Homo sapiens: one gene and its partners. The protein of the gene in region 3 purifies or fractionates together with the protein of the main gene of each other region. This does not show direct contact. Each region holds a gene or a part of one and is shown on either strand. Other genes may lie near its edges. The genes, in order: SUPT16H, UBN2, TEAD2 and HOXB13.

Evidence for each region.
Region 1: the proteins of TEAD2 (region 3) and SUPT16H purify together in Homo sapiens (affinity purification with mass spectrometry; 2 studies listed by BioGRID and IntAct, with this or other methods). This does not show direct contact.
Region 2: the proteins of TEAD2 (region 3) and UBN2 purify together in Homo sapiens (affinity purification with mass spectrometry; 2 studies listed by BioGRID and IntAct, with this or other methods). This does not show direct contact.
Region 4: the proteins of TEAD2 (region 3) and HOXB13 purify together in Homo sapiens (affinity purification with mass spectrometry; 2 studies listed by BioGRID and IntAct, with this or other methods). This does not show direct contact.

What each region holds. Positions count from the first base shown.
Region 1 is NC_000014.9:21,359,576-21,367,024, forward strand, and holds part of SUPT16H (FACT complex subunit SPT16), read right to left. Parts: intron 6,955-7,449; coding exon 6,864-6,954; intron 5,569-6,863; coding exon 5,495-5,568; intron 5,365-5,494; coding exon 5,252-5,364; intron 3,929-5,251; coding exon 3,863-3,928; intron 3,754-3,862; coding exon 3,658-3,753; intron 3,575-3,657; coding exon 3,459-3,574; intron 3,373-3,458; coding exon 3,219-3,372; intron 2,750-3,218; coding exon 2,622-2,749; intron 1,639-2,621; coding exon 1,503-1,638; intron 1,398-1,502; coding exon 1,271-1,397; intron 959-1,270; coding exon 840-958; intron 35-839; coding exon 1-34. UniProt on the Homo sapiens protein: Component of the FACT complex, a general chromatin factor that acts to reorganize nucleosomes. The FACT complex is involved in multiple processes that require DNA as a template such as mRNA elongation, DNA replication and DNA repair.
Region 2 is NC_000007.14:139,234,230-139,241,678, reverse strand, and holds part of UBN2 (ubinuclein-2), read right to left. Parts: intron 4,675-7,449; coding exon 4,582-4,674; intron 1-4,581.
Region 3 is NC_000019.10:49,358,981-49,366,862, reverse strand, and holds the start of TEAD2 (transcriptional enhancer factor TEF-4), read left to right. Parts: upstream 1-4,446; 5' UTR 4,447-4,530; exon of another isoform or gene 4,531-4,566; intron 4,567-4,956; coding exon of another isoform or gene 4,957-4,987; exon of another isoform or gene 4,988-5,073; intron 5,074-5,345; exon of another isoform or gene 5,346-6,299; coding exon of another isoform or gene 6,300-6,330; exon of another isoform or gene 6,331-6,781; 5' UTR 6,782-6,787; coding exon 6,788-7,019; intron 7,020-7,363; coding exon 7,364-7,428; intron 7,429-7,882. Other genes in the region: DKKL1 (dickkopf-like protein 1), read right to left, coding at 978-1,070, 1,214-1,354, 2,109-2,281, 2,745-2,799. UniProt on the Homo sapiens protein: Transcription factor which plays a key role in the Hippo signaling pathway, a pathway involved in organ size control and tumor suppression by restricting proliferation and promoting apoptosis.
Region 4 is NC_000017.11:48,725,751-48,734,054, forward strand, and holds the start of HOXB13 (homeobox protein Hox-B13), read right to left. Parts: upstream 3,001-8,304; 5' UTR 2,844-3,000; coding exon 2,243-2,843; intron 1,294-2,242; coding exon 1,040-1,293; 3' UTR 1-1,039. UniProt on the Homo sapiens protein: Sequence-specific transcription factor which is part of a developmental regulatory system that provides cells with specific positional identities on the anterior-posterior axis. Binds preferentially to methylated DNA.

The DNA of each region.
Region 1 (7,449 bases), on a different chromosome or scaffold from region 3:
CCGTGTGCCGCTTCTTCCCAAACATGATGGCATTCTGTCGGCATAAAACAGAAAGAACACAGAAGTCAGAAACACAAAGGTATCTGTGATGGAAATGGCAGTGATCCAAACTTGGGCCTCCACAGCATGCATGCAAAAATAATTAAACCACCCCTGGTGTCATCATAAATAATGATGCTTGGGAATGGAAACAGTGTACATTTGAAAAAGTGCTGTGCTCCTACTTATTACAGGAACTTTGGAAATCATGTTGGTAACAAATCTTATCTAAAGCAAAACTTCATTTTAGAAAGAGAAATCTGGAGATCTCGTATAAAACATTTGCTGGCCACCATATAACACACCAAAGGAACAAACATGCTTATGAGCCCCTTCTAGATGCCAGGCCTTGTGGCCTTTAGAGGCATTATTTTATTTAATCCTCTTAAATGTTCTTAAGTGAGAGGTGATTTTTTCATCACTTTTTTGTTTTTTGTTTTTCACACGCTGTCGCCCAGGCTGGAGTACAATGGCGCGATCTCGGCTCACTGCAACTTCCGCCTCCCAGGTTCAAGCAATTTTCCTGCCTCGGCCTCTCAAGTAGCTGGGATTACAGGCGCTGGCCACTACGCCTGGCTAATTTTTGTATTTTTAGTAGAGACGGGGTTTCATCATGTTGGTCAGGCTGGTGTCGAACTCCCGACCTCAGGTGATCCACCCACCTCGGCCTCCCAAAGTGCTGGGATTGTGGGCATGAGCCACCGCGCCCAGCCCTTTCATCACTATTTTATAGGAAAGAAGCTGAGTGAAATGAAGTGTCTTGCCCAAGAGCTGACAGCTAGTTAAGTAGAAAGGTATACCTTGAGGTGAAAGTGCAAGACAATAATCATTTCTCCATCACAGGGCTGGAACAAAGCATGCTTAATATTATTGTACAAAATATCCACTTTGTCTCCTCGAACAGATGTGAAGCGGAAGCCTGGGGAAAAGAATGAAGAAATGTCAAGCAGTATAATTAAGTTAGGCCAAAAGGCACTGCAACTCTTCTGGCTGATTTGCACAGGGTCAGAGGAAACACCAACAGCTGTATAGAGCTTTCCTTTCCTTCTGGCCACACAGCAGTGTAAGTAGATTCCTCCCAGCATTTCCTTGTCATACTTTATTAGCACCATGCTTTAACCAACTGAGCTAACCGGCGGATGGCTCTTTGTCATATTTTATTATCTGATCTGTCATTCCTAACAAATGTGCCCTGAAGAGAAAGCCTAGGTACAGGAGAGATCATCCATACCATTGACATGGGCCTCCAGTGAGCCTTGCATCCTCTTTTGGGCAATATTTGGGCGAATGTATAGATCTTTCAGTTTCGGATTACTCCGGTTTAGATTGATCACCAGTGAGTCTTGTTTTACAATCCCCTAAGCAAGAAGAAAATTAATGTGAATTGTCACATATCCTTACAAGTCTCCAAAAAATACATGTCCTTCTTTGTGTAAGAATGTTTTGCCTGTGTTCAGGCTCACCTCCTTCTCTTTCTCTTCAGCTTCTCGAGTTTTATAACGTTTCTGTACTTCTTTAATAATTCGGAAAGCATTCTGAAGGTTCAAGGCTGGTACTGTCTGTTCTCCGGGTGCCTTAATATTTGATGCTCGGTATGTACTGCAGAAAAGCAACAGCATTTATAGACATTTCTTTTTCAGGCCAGGGAAATTGTACTGATTTACTTTATCTTCTAAGCAGCTTAATCTCTACTTTGCTTTTTTTTTTTTTTTTTTTTTTTGAGACAGGGTGTGCCTCTGTCACCCAGGCTGGAGTGCAGTGGCCCAATCTTAGCTCACTGCAACCTTCGCCTCCTGGGTTCAAGCCATCCTCCCACCTCAGCCTTCCAAGTACCTGGGATTACAGGTACACACCACCATGCCCGGCTAGTTTTTGTATTTTTAGCAGATACAGGGTTTTGCCATGTTGACCAGGCTGGTCTTGAACTCCTGGCCTCATGTAATCTGCCTGCCTCTGCCTCCCGAAGTGCTGGGATTACAGGCGTGAGCCACCATGCATGCCCATTCCTTCTTTTTTCATTTTTCAAATCTGGTATAACATCCCCAAATTATCCCATTTCACACCATGAAATCATAGAATCCAATGTGGCACCAGTTTTCTTATTTGAAGATTCTACTGCAATATATGTTTATTACTTTTAACACTTATTTTCATAATTATTTTTTTTTTGAGACAAGGTCTCGTTCTGTTGCTCAGGCTGGATGGAGTACAGGCAAGATCAGGGCTCACTGCAGCCTCAACCTCCCAGGCTCAAGGAATCCTCTCACCTCAGCCTCCACAGTAGCTGGATGACGGGTGCACACCACCACCCCTGGTTAATTATTTTTTAGAAGAGACAAGGTCTCACTATATTACCCAGGCTCAAAATATGTTTAGTAAATATATAGTATCTTCAAGAAGATTCTAAATTGGGATCCATCCTGAAAATAGTACAAAGTCAAGAAGGCGATCCGAAACAAGTACCAATGAGGAAGGCTTTGACATTTACTAGGTAGGGAAAATGTAGCACAGACAATGAAATGTTTCTGAGAGTACCACTCCAGACAAGATGAATCTGGGTATGACTTTTCTTGGGGACTCACATTTCCTTGACAAAAGTCGCTTCAGGGTTAGGAAAGATGTTGCCTTCATTCCTGCCCAGAGCACTGCCTGGGCAATAAAAGTTGATTCGCAAGTAAGTATAATCTCCTTCCACGGACATACTTATATTCTGTTCAAAGGAAAAGCATAAAAAGTAAACAGATTTCTTTCCTAGAGATTAGTAGTTACAGAGATGTTAAAATTAAGTTAGGAGTTACAAATTGACCGCTCTTAACCTTAATCTAAATCTAATAAATTTACATAATTTATCTTTTTAATAACGAAGTATCCTTTTCCCAAAAAAATCTCTGAATTCTCAAAGTACCTTGTACCATGAATACAACTAAAAGTTAAACAATGATTAAACGAAGTTGAAAGAAAGATAGGCAAATTATGTTTCTAGACTAGTTTAGCTTTCTACTAAGTGAAAAAAACTGAAAGAGGAAGGAGAATGACAAGACAAGAGGGATGTCAGTAACTGAACAGAGTCTGAAGGAGTCAAAAGTGGGAGACATGATGAATGCAGATTATTTATGGCAAATACAATTACTATTTTAAGCAACAGTTTGGATGAAACCTGATGCACTGAATGTCAGTACCTTGATTGTGGCAATGTGAAACGGTGTTGCAATGCCAAACACGGGCATTATTACAGTCTCATATTTCTTATCGATGTAGATCTTCATTTCCCGAATATGTGGTTCCTTAGGCATCAGAGATGGGTTTTTATAGGACACATTAGACTTGCGAGCTCTGGAGTGGGATAAAAAAACAACTGAGAAATTTCTGCAGTCCCACAGAACCCTCAGATGATCTCACTGCTCAGTGAAAACTCTTACTTCTGAATCTGCTGTTCTCCCTTTTGTTCAGTCAATCGCCTCTTTGCTTCTTCATTGAGTTGAGCCGCTAGTTCTTTCTGATGTGCTCTTCGCTTCTCTTCTGCAGTCATTTCATTCTGGTGAATGGAAAATCCAATTTATCACAACACGTGAGCCATATGACAGCCGAGATCAATGTAATTTAAAATAGTAAACTTACTCTTGTTCTTTCTGTAAGTAATGCTGCCCGAGAACCTCTTCCCAAAAGGTCCTCTGCCTCATCTTTCTCCTCCTCCTCTTCTTCCTCATCTTCATTCTATGGAAAAAGTCATAATCAAAAAATGAAATTTTAATTATTTTAGCCAATATTATTTAACTTCTTTATATCCTAAACTTCCTATACTACTTATCTATCTTCTTCCTACCTTTAGGAAAATCCCCACATTCTTCACTTTCTTCTTCACAGAAGTGAGAACAGTAGCTGGGCCATCCTAGAATTAAAAGGAGAATGAAGACACATTATTTAAAAGAGGCAATTTCATTTTCTAACCTAGTAAACGGCTGGGCAATGCTTTGAATCTTTTGGACACTAAAATGTTTGACAATGAATAAATATAGTTTTTATCCTTCTAACCTCTAACCTCTCGTCAGGAGCTACAATTTTTTTTCTTTTTCTTTTTTTTGAGACAGAGTTTCACTCTTGTCAACGAGGCTGGAGTGCAATGGCGTGACCTCAGCTCACTGCAACCTCCGCCTCCCGGATTCAAGTGATTCTCCTGCCTCAGCCTCCCGAGTAGCTGGAATTACAGACGCGCACCACCACACCTGGCTAATTTTTGTATTTTTAGTAGGGCCGGGGATTCACCATGTTGGTCAGGCTGGTCTCAAACTCCTGACCTCAGGTGATCCACCTGCCTTGGCCTCCGAAAGTGCTAGGATTACACGCGTGAGCCACTGCGCCCAGCCAAGAGCTACAATTTGGGAGGCAACATTGGGTAATCACTAATACAGGTTTGATTTGAAGCCTGGCTCAGTTGCTTTCTACCTCAGTGACATTTGGCAAGTTACTTAAACTTGTCTGTGCCTTCAATTTATCTGTAAATGGAGGTAATAAGAGTATCTACTTCACAAGGTACTATTTCAATGAATTAATGTAAACTGCTTAGCTTATGATAAAAACACTGAACTATCTGTGCTCACTATTATTAAAAATCAGTTCGCTGAGGGAAAGAAGCCAGTCACAAAAGACCACATAGGGTATGACTGAATTTACATCAACTGCTCAGATATTTAGCAAATCCTTAGAGAGAACGCAGTTTAGTCATTGCCTAGGCCTGAAGAACCAGTGGGGGAAGGGAAGGGGGATGGGGAGTGACTGCTAATAGGTTCAGGGTTCTTTCCTGAGGTGATGAAAATATTTTCAAATTAGATTGTAGTGATGGTTACACAAATGTGAAAATACTAAAAATCACTAAATTGTACATATCAGGTGGGTGAATTGTATAGTATGTGAATTGTAGCTCAATAAAGCTGTTATTAAAAAGAAAAAAGAATAACCGGTTTCATTATTAGTATTAGTTCCTGATATTATCATTATCAAGGTTCAAGCCACAATATGACAATATGATTTAAAGGTTTATATCATTCCCTATACCTGGGCTACAGTCTCTATTCCTAGCTGCATTAGGTTAGGCTGTCACACGGATTCTTCCCCTTAGCTAGCATTTAACAAAGCAAGAAAAAAACCACAGGGTCCACAAACGTGCCTCAGAAGTTAGTTCATGAAGACTCCAAAGTTTAGACACAATACACACCTCATCCACAAGCACTGTGTCACCAATGAACAGGGCATAGGTTTTCTCTTCTGGCTTTTTCCCCTCCTTGTTAGTCAGGTCTGAGAATCCTAAATTGATGCTGAAAACCATTCCTAAAACAGCAAAACAAGGATCAGTCTGTGGCTGTGACAATGTGGAGAGGTGTGAGACATATGCCTAAAAGAAAATAAAGCTAAAGGAAGTAACTCACAAAAGCATTTTCCTATTGTATGTGAAACTTACCTTTCTTCAGTTTGTATTGATTTTTGCTATTGATTACTAGGGAGCCTTCACGGAATTCAATTCCCATCCCAAACCTGAAAAGAAACAGATAAACATCAGCAAAAGGCTAAAGATCTCTAACATGGATCAAGCATAACATATTCATTTCAACTTTCACAATAAGACAGGCAAACATGTTTGAAATGATTTACCCCTGCTGACCGCTCAGTTAGAAAAGAGGATTCAAAGACAGTCTTTGGCCTCTAAACATGCTGTATAATCCCATGGCGAAAAATAATTTCCTAATTGATTATATCGAGCCTTTTTAATTTTAGCTTATTTGCCCACATTTAAACTTTAACCTTCTACCATAAAATCAAGTCAGTAGTACTCCTAGAAACAACATAGAGATTATTAAGGGGTACATTACTAAGACAGTAATTACTAGATTAAAAGGGGCAATTTTTAGTGGAACACTGGTAAACCAGATTCGTAAGACTTGTTATATAGGTATATATTTCCATGAGAGAAGTCTAGAAACTATATACCATAGACTAGTTTTCATCTAAAGAGAATGCCTACATAAAGCTTTGTTTCCCAAAATGTCCTTTGTTCCATTACACGTTATTAGGTATTTCTAGGTGTTCAGTGATAAAATACATTTGAGAAATGTATAAAATACATTTGAGAAATACACTGGATTGAATAAACAAACCAAAACCAAAACCAAAACCAAAACCAAAACAAAAAAAAACCCCCAAAACAAACAAACGGCCAGGCACAGTGGCTCACATCTGTAATCCCAGCACTTTGGGAGATCAAGGTGGGAGGACTGCTTGAGCCCACGAGGTCAAGACCAGCCTGGGCAACATAGCGAGACCCTGTTTCTACAAAAAATAAAAAAATGAGCTGGGTGTGGTGGCACGTGCCTTGGTCCCAGTTATTGGGGGAGCTGAGATGGGAGGATTGCTGGAGCCCAGAAGGTCTAGACTGCAGTGAGGCACGACTGCACCACTGCACTCCAGCCTGGACAGAGTGAGACCCTGTCTCTAAATAAAATATTAGGACATCTCAGAGTACTTAAGTTGCAAATGTGCACGGAGAGAGGAGATATAGTATGTATTGATAATATTTCCTAACATCTGTAATTATATCCTGGAAAACCTATGGGCTGGAACACCACACTGGTCTAGAAAAATCTCTCTTATACACTTGGGAGAACTTAAATCTGTCTCACCTTCTCTGATAACATCATGTGCCTGGCACATAGTATAGTTTGCTAGTCCATAAATGTTGGCTGAATCAATCAATTAGCCTAAAGAAATAAGACTGACCACTGACAGTCTAACTGAAAACTGACTCAAGAATGACAATAGACATCATGGCATACCCTAGGTTTTTGGTAATTTTGTTCAGCAGTTCTGGCTTCTGCTTTTTAACCACGTCCATGACAGCGTTATACACGTCACATATCTTCACACCTAATAACAAGACACAAAGGAGATATTAAAGTATCTTTTAGGAAAAAAACTCAGTAACATTTTAAAATCAAAATTTATGTCCCCTAAAGCAGTGTTTCTCAAAGTGTGAACTAAACAGTCCACTCACTTTTTTTTTTTGAGACAAGGTCTCACTCTGTCACTCAGGCTGGAGTGCAGTAGCATGATTACGGATCACTGCAGCCCTGACCTCCCAGACTCAATGATCCTCCCACCTCAGCCTCCCAAGTAACTGGGACTATAGGCACACACCACTATGCCCAGCTAATTTTTTATTTTTTGTAGAGACATGGTCTGCCATGTTGCCCAGGCTGGTCTCAAACTGGACTCAAGCAATCCTCCCACCTTGGCTTCCCAAAGTGCAGGAATTATAGGTGTAAATCACTCCACCTGGCCCCATTCTTTTTTTTTTGGATGGAGTCTCACTCTGTTGCCCAGGCTGGAGTGCAGTGGCGTGATCCTACTTCACTGCAAGCT
Region 2 (7,449 bases), on a different chromosome or scaffold from region 3:
TCAAGAAAATCAAGAGTATTTAGAAGAATAATTTGTCTTTGAGTGAAAACAGTGTTATTCCATTTGGTCAACTGTTTTATTTATAAGACTGCTCAGAATTACTTTTCTACTATCAAATCTACCCTTACCCTTCTTTTTAAAAGAAGTATGAAACTACTAGGGCTCTGAGAGCCCAAAACCACATAGAACTAAGTGTGAAAGATAGTATTCAAGGTCTATATAGCACAGTAAGCAGATTTTAAAGTTATAATGTGATTTCATGATTATTAATAAATGCCTGGCAGAATATATGTCTTCCTATTCAGAGAGTCATTCAGATTCAAAGAGTCTTAACTGAGCCCCTGCTAGGCACAAGGTATTGTGTTAGGTGCTTTCATTTAGATTAGTGAATTTATATCCAATTCTAGGACAGTATGATCTTTCAGAACGGCTGGGGTAATGGAGTGAGAAAAAAATCACTAAGAGAAATCTTCCAACAATTATAGGTTATCCTATGTCCTAGAAGGCTAAGATAACAAGTCTATACCCATCAAATTGAAGCATCCTACTCCTGAGTATAGAGTATAGGTGGCCTCATAAAAGGCATATATTACCTACAGACTATCTAAAAACTGAATTGGAAACCAAGATGTTTTGCCTAAACATTTTGGAGCCTTAACTGGGAATAAAGAGAGGCATGGGAGCCTCTTTTACCTGTATCCTGCCTCCTTTCTAACCATCAAGACGAATCTGGAGCCTATACGGTTGTAGAAATGTCAAAACTTGGACTTAGCTATTTAAAAAGATTTATGTACAACAACCAATTTAGTATAATCTAGGTAAAAATAGGTACTTAATAGTCATATTGACCTTTTCCCAAAAAACCATTTAGTAATTGATGCTGAATATGAACTGTCACATTACCTGAGCATAAGAACAACATAACAGGAAACAGAACATGGCCATAAAAATAGGACACAATGGAGGGGGGAACCCCATAAATTCAATGCAGGGTGCTCTTTTTACAATTTTATACTCCCTGTAATTTCTGATATCACTGATCTTCAACTGCTGCAACACCTGCCCCAAACACCAATAAAGATCATTGTAGTTTAAGAGAGAGATTTTGTGATAGCCTAGAGCTCTAGGCATATAACGCCCAGCAGGACAATGTATCTTCTCTCAGGTCACTTTTGGCCTGATGATTTTCTTAAAAGATTCCAAATAATTATTTAAAAAAAAAAATATATATATATATATATATATATATTTAGGCTGGGTACAGTGGCTCATATCTGTAAACTCAGCACTTTGGGAGGCTGAGGCAGGTGGATTGCTTAGGCTCATGAGTTTAAGACCAGCCTAGGCAACACAACAAGACCCTGTCTCTACCAAATAAATATATATATACATATACACACACACACAATACTCATAGATATAACACTTGGGCATGCTTTTTGGTTAATATACATACAATCTCTAATTAGAATGGAAATAAGACAGTAAGTCAGCAAAATAAAAATCCAGAGAAGAAATATAGCCCATTAATTTAGACTATAACAAGAGTAATATTTTATCACTGTAAACAAAATAACAAGGCTTAAATATATCTAAGTCAATTGAAACTCAATTTCACGCATCAAACAACTTCTTCAGAACGCTGATCTTTCTATGCCAGATACTATCCTAGGGTTGACTAAGAAGACTTAATGCTAACTTTAAGGTAGTGCGTCATATACTGAATCACTTTACTTATAGGATTATATATAGGAATTTTTCCATTTGCAAAGGGCAATTCTAAAATCCTTGATTTTGTAACCCACAGCAAAATAGACACTCTAGGCTGGGCGCAGTGGCTCACGCCTGTAATCCCAACATTTTGGGAGGCCAAGGCGGTGGATTACCTAAGATCAGGAGTTCGAGACCAGCCTGACCAACATGGTGAAACCCTATCTCTACTAAATACAAAAAATTAGCTGGGCATGGTGGTGCATGCCTGCAGTCCCAGCTACTTGGGAGGTTGAGGCAGGAGAACTGCTGGAACCTGGGAAGTGGAGGTTGCAGTGAGCCGAGATAGCGCCATTGCACTCCAGCCTGGGCAACAAGAGTGAAACTCTGCCTCAAAAAAAAAAAAAAAAAAAAAAAGACACTCTAATATAGTGATGGAGGGAGTAGAACTGGTAATTTAGTAATATATACTAAAATTATAAATGCATAAATCTTCCGACCTGAATCGTCTGATTCTAGGAATCTCTCCTAGAGATAAACTTGAAATTGTGTAAAATGCCATTTTACAGACTAATTTACTGCAGCACTATTAATAAGGGCAAATTTTTGAAAGCAACCTAAATCATTTGGGGACTGGTTACAGTGTGATAGTTCCATGCAATGAAACAGCATGCAGCCTTAAAAAAAAGGGAGAGAAAGCACTTTGTCCTGATATGACCCCCCCAAATATACTAAGATACAGTAAATAAAAAGCAAAGAGCTTAAGTGTGTACAATTCTATAATATGTATAAAAAGGGGGTGGGAAAGGAATAGATGTGTATGTATAGAGATGTATCTCTAGTACCACAGGAGTGTTACTTGCCTAGGAAGTGGGATTCCATGGGTGGGCAATACAATAAAAGGAAGATTTTTAATTTTTGAATTTTGAGCCACATAAGTGTACTAGTTGGTTAAAACATTAAGTGTAACCAATGTATAACTTGTATAAAAAACACAGTATTTTAGGATTTATACATGCTAGGATTTTAGGATTTATACATCCTATAGGATTTTACAATTTATACATCATGATACAATATAGTCTCAAAAGATTACACTGTAATTAAATACTACAATGCTATTCCTTCTATTTAAACACCCACCAGTCTATCCCTAAATTTATTATTATATAGTCACAGAATAGAGAACAATAGGGTCTCGGAAAAATCTGAACCTCTCAATTTATAGATAGGAAAACTGTACCCTTGGCCAGGCCCAATGGCTCACGCCTGTAATCCCAGCTCTTTGGGAGGCCAAGGTGGACAGATCAGTTGAGGTCAGGAGTTCGAGACCAGCCGGGCCAACATGGTGAAACCATCTCTACTAAAAATACAAAAATTAGCCAGGCATGGTGGTGCATGCCTGTAATCCCAGCTACTCAGGTGGCTGAGGCAGAAGAATTGCTTGAACCCAGGAGGTGGAGGTTACAGTGAGCCAAGATCACACCACTGCACTCCAGCCTGAGTGACAGAGACTCTGTCTTAGAAAAAAAGAGAGAAAAAGAAAACTGTGGCCCAAAGCTAAAAAACCTCACCAAAAGGACACAATTAGCAGATGGCAAAGTATGGCCTAGGACCTGATTCCAATTCCAATCTATTCTCATCTACTTCTTCTACCTTCAAATGGTTTCTTAATTACCACAAGGAGCCAGCACATATGGGTCAAGATCCCTGTTGTATCTTGAGGGTACAAGGCCCTCAATGACAAGGCCAATGTGAGCTGATATCCTTTCTCCTGTGGGATACTTTTCAATGCTCACAGAGGAATCAGAGGGGTAAGGTGTTGCTTCTCAACTGGGTTATGTTTTAGTAAAGTGCCAAGAGTACTCAAAGCCATAGTGTAAATGTGGGGTGAGGAGTGGGGCTTTCTACAAATTTAGTAATACTAGAAAATTTGAGAAAAATGTTAAGCAACTTAATCAGGTAATTAAAAATTGTTTTTGTATTCAAACAAACACCACTATATTGTGGCACTGAATATAAAATGTACATGAATATTTAGCATAAACCGGACACTTTCAAAGAAGTCTCATGCTGGTTCTGAGTCTGACGCAATGAGCTTAGAAGTACACACATTCACTCTCAAACTCTTAGGAGGCAGGAAGGTTTCAGAACTACTATACCAAAGGAATTAAAATAGCATTCTCGATGGTGGCGGAAAGGGAACAGAGTTAGAGCTACACAGACCTGGACCTGTAGCCTACTCTTGCCACTGTGTGACACTGTATCAGCTACTTAATCTTGAACTCAGAGCCTCAGTTTCCTCATCTGTAAAATATGGTCAATATTACTTAGCTTGTGGTTTTGTTACAAAGATTGGAGATAATATATGTAAAGCAAACCGCCCAGACTCTAGAAAGACTATAATAAATGATGGCTACTTGGCAGGATGGATCACTTGAGGTCAGGAGTTCACGACCAGCCTGGCCAACATGGTGAAACCCCGTCTCTACCAAAAATACAAAAAATTAGCTGGGTGTGGTGTTGCCCCTGTAGTCACAGCTACTTGGGAGGCTGAGGCATGAGAAAGGCTTGAACCTGGGAGGCGGAGGTTGCAGTGAGCCAACACTGCACCACGGCACTCCAACCTGGGCACCAGAGCGAGACCCTGTTTCCAAAATAAATAAATAAAAATAAAAATGAATGATGGCTACTTTAACTATCACAAGCCTGTTGGAATCTTTATTTGACTGTCTAACCATTCATTTGGTTTCCATTGGTGAGAACAAAGTAAGGCAGGCAACGGATATTTATAGGCCCTCCCAACCAGCCACAGAAAGCAAACAGGTCAATAGGATAAAATTACCTAAGTGATCAGTTTATTATACTCACATATTTCATTTCAAACTTCTTAGCCAACATTTCCACCTCTTGCCTCTCCTGATGTTCATCATTAAATGGGTCTTCTGTGTGAATGAGCTTCTTCTGATTCAAGGTGAATGGGAAAAGAAAGAGAAGTATCCATTAGTATTACAAATATTATTATTGTTTGTTTATTTATCATTATGTAACAACCACTTCAATTCTATTTCAATAAATGTGATCTGAAAGGAAATAAACTAGTGAGAATATATAACATGTTATATAATTAATTATATTATTACTCAGAGACTATATCTTAAATTTAACCAATACGAGACAACTTTTCCTAATACTAACAAGTAAGTCAGAAGTATTAAAACTAAAAAAAAAAAAGTTGGTTCATAGCAAAAAAAATTTACAGTTATAATGGACTCATATACATTTCACAGTGTTTTGATGAGTAAGAACTCAACAATCCAAATTGTCTTCACCTGCAAAATGATCACATGGTCACCTCATCCAAAATAACAAAGAAAAAAAATCCCCAGGAACACTAGCTAAATATGAAAATCTCACTTATAATTCTAGATTGATATCTTCACTAACAAAGATTAACTGCTTTGATCAGGAAATGCTTCTAAAAGGAGCTCTAGATTATTAATTAAAAGCAACACTTCAACCATCTGCCTGTGAGTTAACACTGAGTGTGTGTAGCGGCTAAGGCTTTCTGTTGAGGTCCAATATCAACAACCATTGTATCACCAATATTCTGTCAATGGATATCCATTCAGGGAATACACATTACTTTTAAACAAAGCTAGAAAAGAGAAATAGCTGCAAAAAGATTACATTACCATGCCTTTCTTCTAGTAGGGGAGAGTGAAAGTTTATTATAATACATGGTTTAACACACACACACACACAGAGCTAGAAGCTCACATTAACCATCTATTTAACAAAACAAACAAAAATAGCGATCACATCCTTAAGTCTTCTATTTTAGTATACAAACATATATATGGTTTTCAATGCACAAAAAAACCAAAACAAGGATAAAAATACTACTTTTATCCAATTTCAGACAACTGACTCAGGTAATTTAAAAAGGAAGGTATACTACAACTGAAATATTGATACAGATTCAATGGACCCTGAAGAGCAAGAAAAAATGCAGAAGGAAGATGTGCACACTTTGAAACTGAGACACTTCATCCTGGATATAAAGACTGAGACATGATCGGTCTAAAAAACATGATAGAAAAATGTGGACAGAATGAATACGAGACAATTCCTCACACTTGGGACATTAGAATAAAGGGATACTTCTTTAAAGGAGTTAACTTTAAAATCAATTTTTAAAATTATTGTAATAAGTAATAAATTTATAGAATAGTTCACCCCAACAGAAGCTACCAATGAAAGGCCAGGCGCAGTGGCTCACACCTGTAATCCCAGCACTTTGGGAGGCCAAGGTGGGTGGATCACCTGAGGTCAAGAGTTCAAGACCAGGCTAGCCAACATGGTGAAACCCCGTCTCTACCAAAAATACAAAAACTAGCTGGGTGTGGTGGCACACGCCTGTAGTCCCAGCTACTCGGGAGGCTGAGACAGGAGAATCGCTTGAACCTGGGAGGTGGAAGTTGCAAGTGAGCTGAGATGCTGAGATTGCGCCACTGCACTCCAACCTGGTTGAGACAGAGTGAGACTTCATCTCAAAAAAATAAATAAATAAAATAAAAATAAAAATTTACCAATGAAAAACATAAACATGATCCAAAAGGGAATAAACTAGTGAGAATAAACTAATAAGGAATCCTAGGCATGTCCAGGGTGTAGCCTTAACCAGAGGCTCAGGTTAAGGACAGTAAGCAATCGCCATGCCTATTACAAACTGCTCCCTCTTGCACTGTGAAGCCCAAATACTTACTATGGTATGACTCATTTTATATGTATAAATATAAACACATGGATCTATATTTTTAATAAGAATCACCTTATATGCCATTCTAAAATATTTTATGTATTTTATGTAGGTATCAAAAGTACAGCTCTTATTTTCTCTTGACAGCCTACAAAAACAAATTTAAGAAAATGGACTCACTTTTCTTTCACAGTTAAGAATAAACACCCTCCCCCAATCAAGATTAAGCTTTTTTGTTTTTTCAGGTGAAAAAAAATCTGAAAATTATCAACTACCCACATGCAAAACTGATGCAATAATTTTGTCCTTTGATCTTAACTCATCAACACCATTTTCAGGAGGTCTTTCACAAATTTCATCAAAAATACGCAAACAATGAAATACCATGGAATTCTCAAATAGTATAGTTACATTAACACACTTAATCACTTATTTTTCTTTTTACAGTAAATGTTCAATTAAGCATGTTCACAAATGGGTGTTCTGGTTAACTGATTTTTCTGGTTTACTAAGAGTTAAACCTTTTCTTGTGTATCAATCATTGCCAAAATTTATTTCTAAAATGCACTATTACCCTTTAGCCAGAAATGGTGACCAAATTAATCTTTCAGGATAGAGATGATTCCAATGCCAGTCATCATCCTAAACCATCTCAATCACAGCACTGTACTGCCTAGAGACAATAAGGTTAAAGGTTTAGCTAACCTGTGGTTTTGTTTTTCCTATTTTCCCAACATAAATTATTTAATTGTGCTTTCCTCATTAATACAAATAGAGCATAGAAAAATTTCTGATTATGTTCCAGTAAATCAGGGTTTTACTGTTCATTTAGTATTTAAGAAGGGAACTGATTTAAATGCACCCACATGAATGGTATCCATATGTAACACACCTTTTGTTGTTTGTTTTTTTTTAATAGCCCCACATCTACCAATTTCAGCATCTGGAGCTAAAATCTTATTTAGTGATAGATGGCT
Region 3 (7,882 bases):
GGTGGTCCGCGCCTGTAGTTCCAGCTATTCCGGAGGCTGAGGTGGGAGGATCATTTGAGTCTGGGAGTTGGAGGTTGCAGTGAGCTGAGATTGTGCCACTGTACTCCAGCCTGGATAACAGAGCAAGACTCCATTCTCAAAAAAAAAAACCAAAAAAACAAACAAAAAAAACCCCAAAAATCAAAACCACAATAACAACAAAAACATTTTGGAGTTTATAATGGAGAGGTTTACCAACCACTTTGGGATAGATTGAAAAATACTCTGAAGTTTGCAGAGCACTTACTTTGAGACAAAAACACAATTTGGGGTTTATGAGGGTGAAGCTTTCCAAGCACTTAGAATTAAAAACCCTTCTTGGTTTATAAAACATTTTGGTGCTCATAGAAACACTTTGATTGACTATTATGTAGTTAAAAAAAAAAAAGAAAACCACTTTGATACAAAACCCTCTAGGGTCTACTAAACCCTTGCAGATGTATTCTGAGGTCAAAAATCTCATTTCTGACAGTTGGATTGCCCCACTTGAGAGATGGCAAAACTGAGGCTCAGAAGGAGGAAGTTCCACACAGAGGAGTAAGAGGGTCAGTTCCTCTTCTTGTCCTCCTAAACTACAGAAAATGTTAGGGCCTCACCAGGCATGGTGGCTCATGCCTGTAATCCCAGCACTTTGGAAGGCCAAGATGGGCAGATCACTTGAGGTCAGGAGTTCAAGACCAGCCTGACCAACATGGAGAAACCCTGTCTCTACTAAAAAAATACAAAAAATTAGCCGGGCGTGGTGGCAGGTGCCTGTAATCCCAGCTACCAAGGAGCTTGAGGCAGGAGAATTGCCTGAACTTCGGAGGCGGAGGTTGCAGTGAGCCAAGATCGTGCCACTGCACTCCAGCCTGGGTGACAGAGTGAGACTCTTCTTTAAAAAAGAAAAAAAGAAAATGTTTGGGCCTGGACACTTTGACGGCGGGGCACGTCCTAACCTTCAAATCACCCTCGAAGCTCCCCTCCGCTGGTTGAATGGATGCCACCACATTCTCGGAGATCAGCACCTCTCCTGTCTTGTTGTCGGTCATCTGTGAGGATCCGATGAGAGAGTGAGAGCAAACCTGCTTTCCTCCTCCGCCCTCCTTCCCTCCCAACAGATACTGCAGCACGAGGGATGGCGGGATGGAGGGATCCCAAGGGGACTTCAGGAAGGGCTTCCCTGCATAGGCACCTTGTCGATCTGGAGGTGGCTGGAGAGGGTGTTGTTCCCCAGCTGGTGCTCCTGGTTCTCCTCTTTGTGGTAGTTCCCAGGGAGGCCCCGGAAGTCCATGGGGGCAGAGAATAAGCTGTCTATGCCCCGAAGCAGGTTACCCTGGGGCCGGAGGAGGGACTGGTGAGCTGCTGGACCTCACATCTCCTCAGTACAGCCCCTTCTGCAGCCCTGCTAGGATGCTCCCGAGGCCTTGCCCCAAGTCCCTCCCATCCCCTTTACTTTCTGCCCTCTGATACTTAGGGCCTAACCTCCGGCCTCCATCCCCCATGAATTCTCTCTCTATTCTCAGTCCCATTGCCTTACTATCCCTGTTCCTCTTCTGTCCCCATCCCCCTCTCCTCCTGTCTCTTTCCCCAGTCTCTTGTCTCTGTCCCATCTCCTCTCTCTTTGCCTGTTACCTTTCCTCTCTTATTTATGCACGTATATATTTATTTGTTTAGAGACAGGGTCTCCTTGTTCTGTCATCCAGGCTGGAGTGCAGTGGTGCTATCATGGCTTACTGCAGCCTCGACCTCCTGGGCTCAAGGGATCCTTCTGCCTCAGCCTCCCAAGCAGCTGGGATTATAGGCGCATGTACCTGCAACTATTTTTTATATTTTTTTGTACAGATGAGGGTCTCACTATGTTACCCAGGCTGGTCTCCAAGTACTGGGCTCCAATGATCCTTCTGCCTCAGCCTCCCAAAGTGCTGTGATTATAGCCTGGGCCCAGTCCCTTCCCTCTTCCTATCTCTTGGTCTCCCTGTTGCCCTCTCATCCTGTCTGTCCCCCTGCCTGGCCCTGAACCATCTCCCACTCTGTGTCCCTGAACCTCTTCTCAGTACTTCTTCCCCCATCCCCCCGCCATCGCTTACTTTCAGGAAAAGTCGGCTGAAGCCTTGGAGTAGGCTCTGGAGGCCTGTGAGACCCAAGGAGCTCTCTTGGGCGTCAGCATCATGGATAGGAGCTGCAGCGGAGGGGATCACCAGGGTAGAGAGGAGCAGCAGCAGGACCAGCAGATGCCGCCTTGCGGGGGCAGGTGGGGAGGCTGTGGCAAGGGTCGGGGTCAGAGCCCCGCACAGTGGCCACGCCCCCACCCAAGACGCCCCTCTCCAGCACCTTGCCCAGGTCGCCTCCCCAGTTCAGGCAACTCCCACACCGCGCTCATTTCCCCCACTGCTTCTTTCTTCTACTCCCACACCCTCCACCTTGCCAGGCCCCGTCTTCTCCCAGGTCTGGCTCTTCTGGGTTCTGTCTCATATGCTTTTTTTTTTTTTTTTTTGAGACCGAGACTCTGTAGTCCAGGCTGGAGTACAGTGGCACAATCACGGCTCACTGCAGCCTCGACCTCCCCGGGCTCAGGTGATTCTCCCACCTCAGCCCCCCGAAGTAGCTGGGACCACAGGCGCGCGCCTCCACGCCCGGCTAATTTTTGTATTTTTTGTAGAGACAGGGTTTCGACATATTGCCCAGGCTGGTCTCGAACTCCTGATCTCAAGCGATCCGCCCACCTGGGCCTCCCAAAGTGTTGGGATTGCAGGCGTAAGCCACAGCACCCGGCCTCATCCAATGGTCTTTTCCTCACTTTCGCCCACGTTCACCACCAGATCTCAATCCTCACCTTCTCCCATACCCCGCCCCTTCTTCTGGGCTCCGCCTTTATGCTAGACCACAGCCCGGGTCACCGGACTCCCGGATTCCGGCCGCCCACGTACTGTTAAAGCCAAACAGTTATGGTCTCGAGCCCAGGTCTGGTCTAGAGCGTTGGTTGCGCTCCGCGAGCCGTAGCCACGCCCCTATTGTCTGACCACGCTCCAAACTTGCCGGCCTCACCCAGGAGCCCGGGCCTCTACTCCATGACCACGCCCTTGGTGACACAGCCACGCCCCATCCTTCGTTCACCACACCCCTTAAGCCAGAGCCGTGAGTTCATTCCCTGGCCACGCCCACACAGTCAGACCACGCCCACGTCAGTTGACCTCAGTCCTGGAGACCAAGTCCTGGAAGTCCTGGCGGTGTTCTCTGATTGCGGCCCTCGTTTCGGAGTCCCGCCCAATCGCAATGGCCACGCCCCTTGGCTGAAAGCCACGCCCCTGCACTGGGCCACGCCCCTGCACTGGACCACGCCCCTGCGTCCCAGATCTTGCCCTCATCACCCCAAGTTCCAGTCCTAGGCTCCTCCTACTGGAGACACCGGAGTACAAGCATCCCTTTTAGCTCTCACTCTAATTGTGTATCTGTTTCGGAACCTTTTCTCCGTGTCCCTTCTGGTTTTCCCGCTCCCGCTCCACTAAAAAGTCCCGTTGTCTCCGGAAACCCTAAATCCAGTCTTATATTTCATCTTCCAAGGAACCCAGAATCAGACTTCCTTTTCCCTGAGGACCTCAGGTCCGGACTCCCGCCCCCTCTAGTCCCGTAATTTTGAACACGCAGCCTTTCACCCTTAAGGGACCGGGCCCTAAGCCATCTTCCCTCAGGCACCAAAGCTCTCTTCCCCGTCCCGGGACAGCCGCCAGCCGTCTCCAGTCCACTAGCGCCTGTAGATGAGGAATCTGCACCTACGTGGGCCTCCAATAAACTCCCGGTGGTCCTGCCCACGACTCTTAACTGTGGTGAGGTCACAAGGAAACCAGGTCGTCATAGGAATCAGTCAAAACCCATCCCCAGACCCCAATCCTCAAAAAAAAAAAAAAACAAAAAAAACAAAAAACAAAAAAACCAAAAACCAAACAGAAAAAAAGAAAAAAAACCTCAGGGCTTAACAGTAAAGACTCTTTGTATTCGTATCACTTCCGCACCCCCAATACACAAACACGAGGGTAGCCGGGATTCCAGGCGCCTAGCCCCGTCCCCTCTCAGACCTAGGAGCCCATATCTCTCTCCAGCCGCTTCCTCTCCCAGACCCAGGAGTCCCAGCCCCCAGACCCAGGAGTCCCAGCCCCCAGCCTCTCCTCCCTCAGATCAGGGGTTTCTGGCTCCTATCAGCCTTTTCCCTCCGACTTGGAGTCCGAACCCCCAATCCCCCTCCTTTCCCAAGCACCCAAATCCTGAGTTCCTACCAGCCCCGAGATAGACTAATCTCTCCCAAAGCAAAAATCCTTCCCCAAACTGTCACCGTCGGATCCCCCTTCCCGCTGTCCGCCGGCCGGGCCCGCCCCCCCCTCCGGTCCCTCCCACTTTTCCCAAACAAAGCTCCCGGCAACTTTCTCCCTCGCAGCGCCCCGCCCGCCCGCGGCTCCCCAGCCCCAGGCCGGGAGGTAGGAAGGCGCCGGCGGGAGTCGGGGATCCTGCTTTGGGGTGTGTGAGTTGGGGTGGGGAGTTGCTTCTTAGGAGGTGAGGCGTGCGTTTGCGGGACCGTCTCTGAATGGTTCGCAGCCCTCTTTTTGCCCGGGGGCCCGAATTTGCTCCCGTGACCGAGCCTCAGTGAGGAGTGGGAACTCTGGCCGGAGTTAGGGTGCCTGCGGCTGGGTCTGAGTTTGGGCGTGCGCGCAGGAGCGGGTGCGGGCCAAGGGCGCTGGCGGGGTGTGGGGCGTGCGTCTGCGGCGGTGTCACTTTGGAGTGAGAAGGACCCCTTGTGTAATCTGGGGGGCATTTGGTCCTTCTTACGGAGAAGGGAGGGCCTCTGGGGTGGCCGAGGGGAGGTTACGGGGCTTTCTGGATCTTAAGTCTTGCCTCTTTGGAGGTTTAGGGTCTGGGGCGGGAAATTAGGGGGACCTTTCTTACCCGGCTCCACCGTCCCTTTGTCTGGCCACATGGGGAAGGGCTGGGCTGGGATTTTGGCCTACGGGGGTCCTGAACGCCGCAGCGCCACTGGGCTTGGCTGGGGTCTTTGTCTGCTATGGTCGGCGGGAGGAGGGGAATAGGGGCCTGGACTCTGGGGTCCTGGGAAAGCTGTGGAGGACATGGAGCCTCCGGGGAGGCGGGATCTGACTGTATTGGAAAAAGTTTTCCCTGTTCCCGGCCTCCGGAAAGTCACTGGGAACTTGAGTTGGATCAGAGCCCACGGCGCACGGGGGAGGGGAGGGGCGGGGCCCGGTGCCGGAGGGGAGTCGCCCTGGCCGGCAAGCCCCTCCCCTGATGGGGGTTGTGGGAAGCTGGGGGAGGGGACGCCTGGGCCCTTTGTTCTGGCTCTTCTGATGGCAGGGCGCCCCTGTCCCCCAGCTTGTGGTTCTGTGGGTCTCTCCTGGTCTCGGCCTCAGCTGCTGCCCTGAGTCTCTGTCCCTGCCCTTTCTAGGTCTCCGTCTCCCTTTCTCTGGGTCTCTGTTGCCCTCTCTCTGAGCCTCTGTCCCCCTCTCTCTGAGTCTGTGTCCCCCTCTCTCTGGGTCTCTGGTCCCCTCTCTCTCTGGGTCTCTGTCCCTCTCTCTCTGGGTCTCTGTCCCCCTCTCTCTGGGTCTCTGTCACCCTCTCTCTCTGGGTCTCTGTCTCCCTCTCTGGGCCTCTGGACCCCTCTCTCTGGTCCCTGTCCCCCCCCCCCGGTCTCTGTCCCCCTCTTTCTGGTCTCTGTCTCCCCCTCTCCCTGGGTCTCTGTCTCCCTCTCTTTTTGGGTCTCTGTCCCTCTCTCTGGGTCTCTGTCCCCCTCTCTGGTCTCTGTCCCCCCCTCCCTCTGGTCTCTGTCCCCCCCTCCCTCTGGTCTCTGTCCCCCTCTCTCTCTGGGTCTCTGTCCCCTCCGTCACTGGTCTCTGTCCCCCCCTTCACTGGGTCTCTGTCCCCTTCTCTCTCTGGTCTCTGTCCCCCTCTGTCTCTGGGTCTCTATCCCCACCTCACTGGTCTCTGTCCCCCTCTCTCTCTGGTCTCTGTCCCCTTCTCTCTCTGGGTCTCTGTCCCCCCCCCTTGCTGGTCTCTGTCCCCATCCCCTCTCTGGGTCTCTGTCCCCCTCCCTCTCTGGGTCTCTGTCCCCCTCTCTCTAGACCTCCCCTCAGTCTTGCTTGGCCCCTCTTCTTTTCTGGCAGCTGCTGCTCACATCTTACCACCTGTTCTTGGGGTGGGACAGGGGAAGTTTCACCCACACCTTCCTTCCCCACCACTAACTTTTGCCTCCTGTCTTCTTTAAAACCCGTAATTCATACCCGAACCTTTAGCCTTCATGGCCCTCGGCATTACTCTAGGGTAATCATTGTGACTTCATCACAATTGAGTTCCTCTGGAAACTCTGAGAACACTCCCATCCTCAGCTTTCCAAGAAATCCAGCTCCTTCTCCTCCCTCAGACTCAGGAGTCCAGACCCCAGCCCCTTCTCCCTCACACCCAGGAGTCCAGGCCTCCAGCCCCCGCTCCCTCAGACCCAGGAGTCCAGGCCCCAGATCCTCCTCCCTCAGTCCTAGGAGTCCGGGCCCCAGCCCCTCCTCCCTCAGACTCAGGAGTTCAGGCCCCAGATCCTCCTCCCTCAGACCCAGGAATACCCCCCAGCTCCTCTTCCCTCAGACCCAGGAGTCCAGGTCCCCAGCCCCTCCTCCCTCAGACCCAGTGGTCCAGAGTCCCAGCCCTCTCAGCTTCAAGTCCCTTGAGGGTGGGGTTTGGGGGAAGCTTGCTGAGTTCTGTGTTCCTCCAGGCCCAGATGGGGGAACCCCGGGCTGGGGCCGCCCTGGACGATGGCAGCGGCTGGACGGGCAGTGAGGAAGGCAGTGAGGAGGGTACCGGCGGCAGTGAGGGGGCTGGGGGTGACGGGGGCCCGGATGCAGAGGGGGTGTGGAGCCCAGACATTGAGCAGAGCTTCCAGGAGGCCCTGGCCATCTATCCACCCTGCGGCCGCCGGAAAATAATTTTGTCTGATGAAGGCAAGATGTATGGTGAGTCTACTTCTGTCTTTTGCCCTGGCCCCCACTGATGAATAATGACAGTAACCAAGGTTTATGGAGCACTCTGAAGTAGGAGCTAGCATCACCATTTGCACAGATGAGGAAACTGAGGCACAGCTAGGTTAAGTGATTTGCTTATGGTCGCACAGAGCCAGTGCGTGATGGAGCTGGGATTTGAACCCAAGCAGTCTGGCTTCCACGTAGCTGAGGGGACCGGCAGCCCACTTGCTGCAGACCTTTGGGGACCCATGCTGCTTTCTTCTTCCCTGGTGTCCATGCTGTGGGGAAGTTCTGTTGAAAGTCTAACTAACTCTGTTCCGTCTTTGAATCTTCAGGTCGGAATGAACTGATCGCCCGCTACATCAAGCTGAGAACGGGGAAGACCCGAACTCGAAAACAGGTCTCGGAATGGACTTGTGGGCTTCTGTCTGGGATGGGCCGGTCTTCTTAGGGTCATCCTCGCATGGGCAGGTTCAGGTTCAAGGAAGAAGCTGCTTCCTGTGCGTTCATCTGTCTTCTCGGCATGTGTGTTAGTCCGTTTGTATTGCTATAAAGAATTACCCGAGGCTGGGTTATTTATGTATTTGTTTATTTTTTGAAATGGAGTCTAGCTCTGTTGCCCAGGCCGGAGTGCAGTGGCGCGATCTTGGCTCACTGCAACCTCTGCCTCCCGGGTTCAAGCAATTCTCCTGTCTCAGCCTCCCGAGTAGCAGGGATTACAGACATGCACTACCATGCCTGGGTAATTTTGTATTTTTAGTAGAGATGGGGTTTCACCATGTTGTCCAGGCTGGTCTCGAACTCCTGACCTCAGGTGATCCACTCACCTCAGCCCCCCAAAGTGCTGGGATTGC
Region 4 (8,304 bases), on a different chromosome or scaffold from region 3:
TACAGGACATCAGAGAATGAACACAGAGGCAGAGGCCCTCATGTCCCTCTCAGAGTCCCGGCTCTGCAAAGAGCCCGTCTGTCTCCAGCTTCCAGAATTCCGCACTGTGAATCTGTCTACGTGGACTGGGAAAACAGGGTTGGCACCACTCTGCCACTCCGTTTGTGCCTGGGAAGGGCTAAGTATGCAAGGCTACAAACATCTACTTCACTGGGATCCCAAATGCTCAACAAACCATGACCTGCTTTGGTCAGAACCACCAGAAATATTAAGGGAAGACTCAGAGAGTTTGGGGGAGGAAATTAATGGTGAATTACCCAGGCACTTTCTCAAATCTCTTTTTCTCTGGAAGGAAGGACTGACTAGGGGCAGCCTGCTGGCTTCATTTTCACACGACAGAAAAATCATCGTATTAAGGATGGGTGCTTCCAAGACCAGTGGGTACACCCTATGGGGTGGACAAGGAGGGAGGAAGAGACAGCCTCTACAATTGTCCACCTACCCAGCTGTCAGCTGAGAAAAATGCTAAACGGACATCACAGCCACACAACGAATCTGCCCGTTCCCCTCTCCTCAGTCTTCCTGCTGTTACCAGGGTGAGAGGTGTAATGGAAGGGGGTCTGAGAGAAAGCTTCCCTGCAAAGGGATCGCCTTCCAAATTTATTCATAATTAGCTCAATTCATGAAAGCGGTTTCTAAAGTGCTCTACAGAGCTCTAGATAGAAAATATGAGGCTAACGATCATGGCAGCTAGTACTGGTTATCGTGATTATTGCCACTGTCAGGATGAATGATTATGACTGGGCCAGGTTCTTTGGGAACCCTGGTGGAGTGGGCTGTCACATGGGGTTCCGTCTCCCTGCACATACTGGGTACCCAGGCCGCTCCTGAGGAACAGTCCAGCAGCCAGTGGCCTGGGAAGGGTGTTGTCTCTAGGGGCCTCTCAGCAGAGTCCTTGGCCCCAGCCTGGGCTTGGCAGGTTCCTGGTCTCCCCAGGACACCCCCACTTTCGCTCCTCCCACCCAGGCAAGGAGATCTCTTAAGGGGTAGCGCTGTTCTTCACCTTGGCGAGAACCTTCTTCTCTTTGACCCGGCGGTTCTGAAACCAGATGGTAATCTGGCGCTCCGAGAGGCTGGTGGCTGCCGAGATCTTGCGCCTCTTGTCCTTGGTGATGAACTTGTTAGCCGCATACTCCCGCTCCAGCTCCCGCAACTGCCCCTTGCTGTACGGAATGCGTTTCTTGCGGCCGCGACGAAAGGCGCAGGCGTCAGGAGGGTGCTGCCCGCTGGAGTCTGCGCGGCGTGAAAGGGAGGGAGGAAAAGGCATGGTCAGATACCCACCCATGCAGACCCAGGCCTTGCAAGCCCCAAGCTAAGTCATCTCACAGGTGCACACAGGTCACCCTACAGGCGCACGTGCAATCCTGTTCCTCCAAAGCATACCAGGACAGCACCCTGGCTTCCGGCTTGTTCTCTCACCACCGCTCAGCCTTGGCTCCTGAAGGCCACCCTCACCCATCACTGCTCTCACACCCGCGAATCTGCAAACATACCCACACACCACACACAGTCAGGCCTTTGCCCACCATCACATACGTCCAGTCTTCATGCATTTCCAGACTCTTGGCCACTCTTTTAGATTCTACAGGCAAATTCTGGAAACACGTTTCTGCCCCCACTCCCAATACATGCGCATACACACACACACACACACATTAACCCATCCCAGTGCACACACATATGTCACGGCTGCAGGAAACCTAAATTTTTCTTTGGAAATTGGAAAACTCATCTAATAGAAAGTGAGAGGTTGTATTCTCTACAGTACATCCAATACCTTTTTACCCATCTCCCACACCCACTCCCCACGCACCGAATTGAGAGTTATTTAGCTTTTGTGTAGAATTAGTTTGGAATTGTGCTGGGTAGGGACACCCTGATCCCCACTCAACAGCAAAGAGATCTAAACCTCTCAGACATGTTGAAAGGCTGGTCCCAGGGCCTCCTGGAGAAGTGAGGTGGCCTTCAGGCTTCAGATAGCACCCAGCTCAGGCCCCTCACACTGACCTCCATCCAGGCCCTCCAGCTACTCAGACCTCCTTCAGAGTCCTAATAACCAAGGGAGGAGCACCAAGCTCATCCTCACCAGCTCCAAGTCTCCCTCCTCCTCCTCCCAGGGAAATGCCATTGGGACCCACAACCCCAGGCTCAGAGACAAGGGGACCCAGGGTAATAGAGGTACCTGCAAATGCTGCCTTCCAAAAGGGACCTGGTGGGTTCTGTTCTCCCTGGCAACACATCTGGCTGTTCCAGCCACCAGCGAGAGCCCAAGACTGGTAACTGTCCACAGGCAACAGGGAGTCATGTCGCGGTTCTCCAGGAGCACCCAGAGTCTGCACCACAGACACGTCCAGGTAACTGGCCATAGGCTGGTAGGTTCCCGGATATCCCGGATAGAAGGCAAACTCAGTGGGGCGGCTGGGGTACTCTTCCCCGGCCGTGGGAGTCTCCGCGGGGTACGCGGCCAGGGTGGCTGCCTGGGCACAGGGTTTCAGCGAGCTCCGGGACACTCGGCAGGAGTAGTACCCGCCTCCAAAGTAACCATAAGGCACGGGAGCTGGGGACGTCCCCTGGGGCACCCCAGGGCATGGGTGGCATTGCTTTGGCGGCTCCGCCGAGCCTGGCAGATCCAAGGGGGCATAGTTGACAGCAGGCATCAGCGTAGGCGCCGCTGGGTGGCTGGTCAGAGGGGAGTGGGCGACCAGATTCCGCCCCCCTCCCGCTCCCAGCAAGCCTTCGATATCCTTGGCTCCATCCAAGGTGGCATAATTGCCGGGCTCCATGGAGCCGAGGGTCGGCTCATGAGGTGCGGGGGCGGGGAATCTAGGGGGCACCCAGCTCGCTCTCCCCACCCAGGCCGGGGGAATCCAAAGCGTTTTAAATCGCTCCCAGCTCGCAAGTCGCCTGCATTCGCTCAGCACGGCCGTCTTGACGCAAGAGACGCAGGGGCCCGGGCACGCGCGCTGATTGGCTGCGGCCTGGGGGAGAGAAGCTAATAAAATCCTAAAGGCAGAAACTGCGAAAATACTTTACCCCAGCTTATTCTCTCTCTCTCTCTCTCTCTTTCTCTCTCTCTCTCTCTCTCTCTCTCTCTCTGTCTCTGTCTCTCTCTCTCGCTCTCTCGCTCTTTCTCTCCTCTCTCTCTTCTCCCTCTCTCTCTTCTTTTCCCTCTCCACTCCTCTCTCTCTCATTCCACTTAAAAACAACAAGAGAGAAAAGGAAGGAGGTGTCCTTTCGCTGCTTTCCAGTTTGCAGAGTCTCATTTACACGTCCGGGGGGAGGGGAGGCGTGGTGGGCGGAGGAAGAGGGGACGAGGAGCCGGGCCCCACCTCCTTCTCCTCCTCTCCCTCCCTAGCTTTCTGTCTCCTGCGCTTTGACAGGTTTAACGAGAGAATAAAAAGCTCTCTCTATAAAGTGTCCATCTCCTGGGGGGGAAGGGGAGTCGGGGGTGGGGCTGGGAGGCCGCTCCCGGCCTCAGAGGAGAACCCGGGAATGCGCCTGTGTAAGAGGAGGCTGGGAAATGGGGGTTAATAGGTATTTCTGGCAGCCCCTGGCTTTGGGTCCTGGGTACTAGCACCCCAGTTCATTCCCGGTACCCTTCCTGTCCCAGATGTCCTGGAATGAGCTGCTCCGGGCCCCAGGGAGGTGCCCTGGACGCCCCTTACCCAGGGACTCGCTACTGCCCAGAATGCTCTGGAGGCCCTGATTCGGGTGAGGCTGAGGGAAGAGGCGGGAGACACGAACGTAGACGTAGAAGACATGCGATCTGGATGGAACCCAGGACACTCCACTTCCGGACCTGAAGGGGAAATGGAGCCTCTAGAGTGGCCTGTGGAAGGGTCTGGATTTCCCTTTAAGTAAAGACATACGGAGGGACGGAGACCCACAGGACTTGAGGGAGGGACGGGGAGAGGGAGAGATGAGACTCAGGGACAGCAACACAAAGAGGGAAAGAGAGAAGCTGACAGAGCGGATGGGACAAAATCTTGTAAAATCCTGAAGTGTCAGTCAGAAAAGAGAAAGAAGAGAGGCACTTTCCCCCTTTTTTGGGATCTAAAGAAGTCTGAGGAAGCCAAGCCTGGCTGACTGCCAGAAACCAGCTGCGGGAGTTCTGGACCCCAAGAATACAGACGCCTGTGTGGAGATGCCAGTCTCCCTGCCCTGCAGTCCTCTCCCTATGGTCTGCAAGGGGCCCAGGAAACTGTCCCTGATACTGGCATACTCCCACACAAGCTGAGTACCCAGAAAGCCCAAGACCCCTATCTGCCTCCTGCAAGCTTTAAACTTCCTTACAAGGAAAAGGGAATGGAAGGGGAAACCCCAGCCACTGGCAGAATTGCTTGAGGCCCCTCTGTTGGGGCCTAATGTGCAGTGCAATTCAGAAGAATCAAACGGTTTGTTTCACAAATCTGTCTTTAGAGGTTTTCCGCTTCCTTTACTACCCCTCCCAAATCAAATCCTTCTGTCTGCTTTTTCTAGAACTCCCAGTTTTTCTGGAGAAGACAGGAATGTTTCCATTCTACACGAGGGTCTTGACAATTATATGGAATGGCTTACCCTAAACTCTGGGCAGACTCAATCATAGCCTCTCACCAACCTGACCTTGAACTTGAGCCACTTTGTGGGAAAGGGCCCACAGGCAGTAGTGTACATCACTCCTAATGAGCATTGCTATAATTGAAGACACCAAGCACGAAATCTTCACTAGATCGCATTTGAAAACAATATGGAAGAAAAGGGAGGAGATGTCTCTTCAGTGCTTTCCAGTTTCTCACCAGAGTTTCTTGCTTGTCTAATTATGAACTGCAGAAATATCCAGACTTTTACCTAAAGACTAAGAATTTTTCACCAATTTTTACTTGGTAGATGATAGATATGTAGGGCATGTCCACAGTTTTAGTTTCCACTAGGCAAACACCCACACATGCACATTTATTCATCCTTGTACAGTAGAGGCATTAATAGATCCCTAAATTTAAAAAATAATAATAGTCATAGTCATGCCCTATGACCCAGCAATTCCATTCCTGGGCATAAACCCAACAGAAATGAACCTTTATATCCATCAAAAGTCATGTACTAGTAGGTCCACAGCAGCTTTATCTGTAGTTGCTCAAAGCCACCCATGGCAGCGCACGCCTGTAATCCTAGCTACTAATCCTAGTGGAGGTGGGAAGATCGCTTGAGCCCCGGTGTTCAAGACTAGCCTGGGGCCAGGCACAGTGGCTCAGGTCTGTAATCCCAGCACTTTGGGAGGCCAAGGCAGGTGGATCACTTGAGGTCAGGAGTTCGAGACCAGACTGGCTAACATGGTGAAACTCTCTCTATACTAAAACTACAAAAAAAAAAAAAAAAAAAGCCAATTGTGGTGGTGGACACCTATAACCCCAGCTACTCAGGAGGCTGAGGCAGGAGAATCGCTTGAATTTGGAAGGCAGAGTTTGCAGTGAGCCGAGATCGTGCCACTGCACTCCAGCCTGGGTGACAGAGCAAGACTCCATCTCAAAAAAAAAAAAAAAAAAAAAAAAAAAAAAAAAAACCAGCCTGGGCAACAGGGGTAATAGGGATAATAGGGATACCCCATCTCATAATGAAATCAAAATATAGTAGCTCAAAACTAGAAACAACCCAAAAGTCTATCAGCAGTAGCATGAATAAAGAAAGCACAGTATAATTATACAATGAAGTACTACACAGCCATTTGAAAAAGAATAAACCACTACTACACACAACATTGATGAATCACAGATATGTGGATGAAAGAAGCCAGACACAAAAGAGTAACTTTTGTATGATTCAGTTTCTACATTTCTATGCAGTTCAATGACAAGCAAAATTATGGTATAGTGATAGAGGTCAGAATAGAGATTGGCATGGGGAGAGGTCTCCTGACTGGAAAAGGACATAAAGAAGCCTTCTGGGGTGCTGGAAATAGTCTCCATCTCAATCTGTCTGCTAGTTACAAGACTTTGTTCACTGTGAAAATTCATCAAGCTATACACTTGGTATTTCTGCACTTTATTGCATATCAGCTATATCTCAAATGTTAAGGAAAATAATTAAAAACAAAAATTTTTTTAATTCATTGCAACACTTCCTGAAACTGTGCTTTTGGATGTATAGCATTCTTATCCATGTTCATTGAAATAAGTAGCCAAGTGCATGTAACTGCAGTGTTGTGGAATGCAGAGATGGTTAACTTAAACTTGGCGGGAGTGAAGGTCACCAGCTGTGCTGGAGACCCTCCTGTAAATGGATACATTTCAATACAAATAAATTCTATAGTGCTTGTTTTATTTGCTTTACAATTTATTTAGCATCTGCTAGATCCCAGGGAACAGTTCTGGATCTCATTTTTCTTTCATTTCATTTCATTTATTTTGAGACAGAGTCTCACTCTGTCACCCAGGCTGGAGTGCAATTGTACAATCTCAGCTCACTGCAACCTCCGCCTCCCAGGTTCAAGTGATTCTCATGCCTCAGCCTCCTGAGTAGCTGGGATTACAGGTGTGTGCCACTATGGCCCAGCTAATTTTCTATATTTTTAGTAGAGACAGGGTTTTGCTGTGTTGGTCAGACTGGTTTCGAACTCCTGGCCTCAAGTGATCCCCCTGTCTTGGCCTCCCAATGCGCTGGGATTACAGGCATGAGCCACCACACCCAGCTTTGGATCTCATATTTATTAACACTTGGGTATGTGCCCCTATTTCCTGTACATAGGTATGTGTGTGCATCTGCCCATGACCTATCATAGATCTCAACCGGCATCAGGTAAAGTAAGATTAAGTCTCCTTATCTGTAAAATATGGATAATAATTCTTTCCTCACATACTGTGATGATATAATGAGATTTTGCACATAAAAGCATTTCACAATCTGAATAAATATGAGCTCTATTTGTATTCCTCCATGTGTTTCTGTTTCTAATGAATTACAAGCAACCTGCTTTTACCTGAAAAGGACAGTTGCCCTAAAGAGTGTCAGTCACTTCTCACTTGCCCCCTCAGCCCTGCGTAAGCTACATAGTTCTCGCATCGGGAAACTGAGGCTCAGAGCCTCCAAGTCCTCCCTGGGGCTCTACATGGGTTCAGCGGGGAAGTCCCTGCACAACCCAGGCGTCCTGATCTTCCAGACTGACTGGGCTGAGCCTGGCCTTCCCCTAACCCCACAGATGCCTTTGTGTCCTGCTGGGAGCCTCCTGGCAGACCCTCCGGGAGCCCGGAGCCTCCCCCAGCTTTCTTTACTGACCCAGCCAAAAGCGCTGAAAGCCTCAGCGTGCTCCTTTACATACCCGCCAGACACCTCCAGGAAGGTAAAGGCCAAGTTGAAAGTTAAGAGTCTGTTTACCTCCAGGAGCCCATTCAGCTCGGCCCCACAGACAGCCTGTGACCTTTACAGCCCGGCCTTTGAGCGCGGCCGCCGCGCCCCCGGGGGTTCCGGCAACGGGGACTTGGCACCTCGGTGTCAGCTCCCGCCCCCACCCAGGCTAGGGACCCGCCAACGAGGGGTGGGGGCGGGAGGCGCCCACCCGTCGCACTAGTGGGCATTTGCTAAACTACGTTTTATTTTTTTGTAAAGTGAGCGCCCGCTGCCTTCGTTCTCCCAACTGGAGCAAACTCTGTGGCGGCGACGATGGCGGCCGTCAGGTCGGTGGTGATGAATAGAGAGGATTTCTCTGCAGCGCGACGCTCCCCTCTCCCGAAAGGTTGGCTCCACGGTCCCGCCGGCCGCGCAGGTCTGGCTGAACTGCTTGGGGTCGCCCGGCTCCTCTCGATTTTATGAAAATGGCCTAATTGAGGTGTGCTCTTTTCTTTCCTTCCTCTTTTCATCTTTTCCTTCCGTCTGCATTTTCTCTCCTCTGTCTTAGGCTTGGTATCTTCTTTTCTTTTTATATTTGTGTTTTTCTCACCGCCTTTGCTTCCTTCCATTTCAGTTATCTTGCTTTTTGTGTGTTCTTTCTTGATTTCTTTCTTTCCTTTTCTTGTTATTGCTCACTCTCTGGCTCCGCCACCCACCCCTTGCTCTATCTTCATTTTCCCTTTAGTACTTTTCTCCCTATCTTTCATCTCACTTACACTATTTTTCTCTTTGTTTGCTTTTTCTTCCTCATTTTTCCTTCTTCAGTTTTCTCATTTTTCCTTCCTCCTTCCTTTTTTTTCCTCTCTCTTCTCTATTTCTTTTTTCTTTCTCTCATCTCCGTTTTACTTCCCTTCCTCCGCCCGCCACACACGTTTTTCCTTTGCA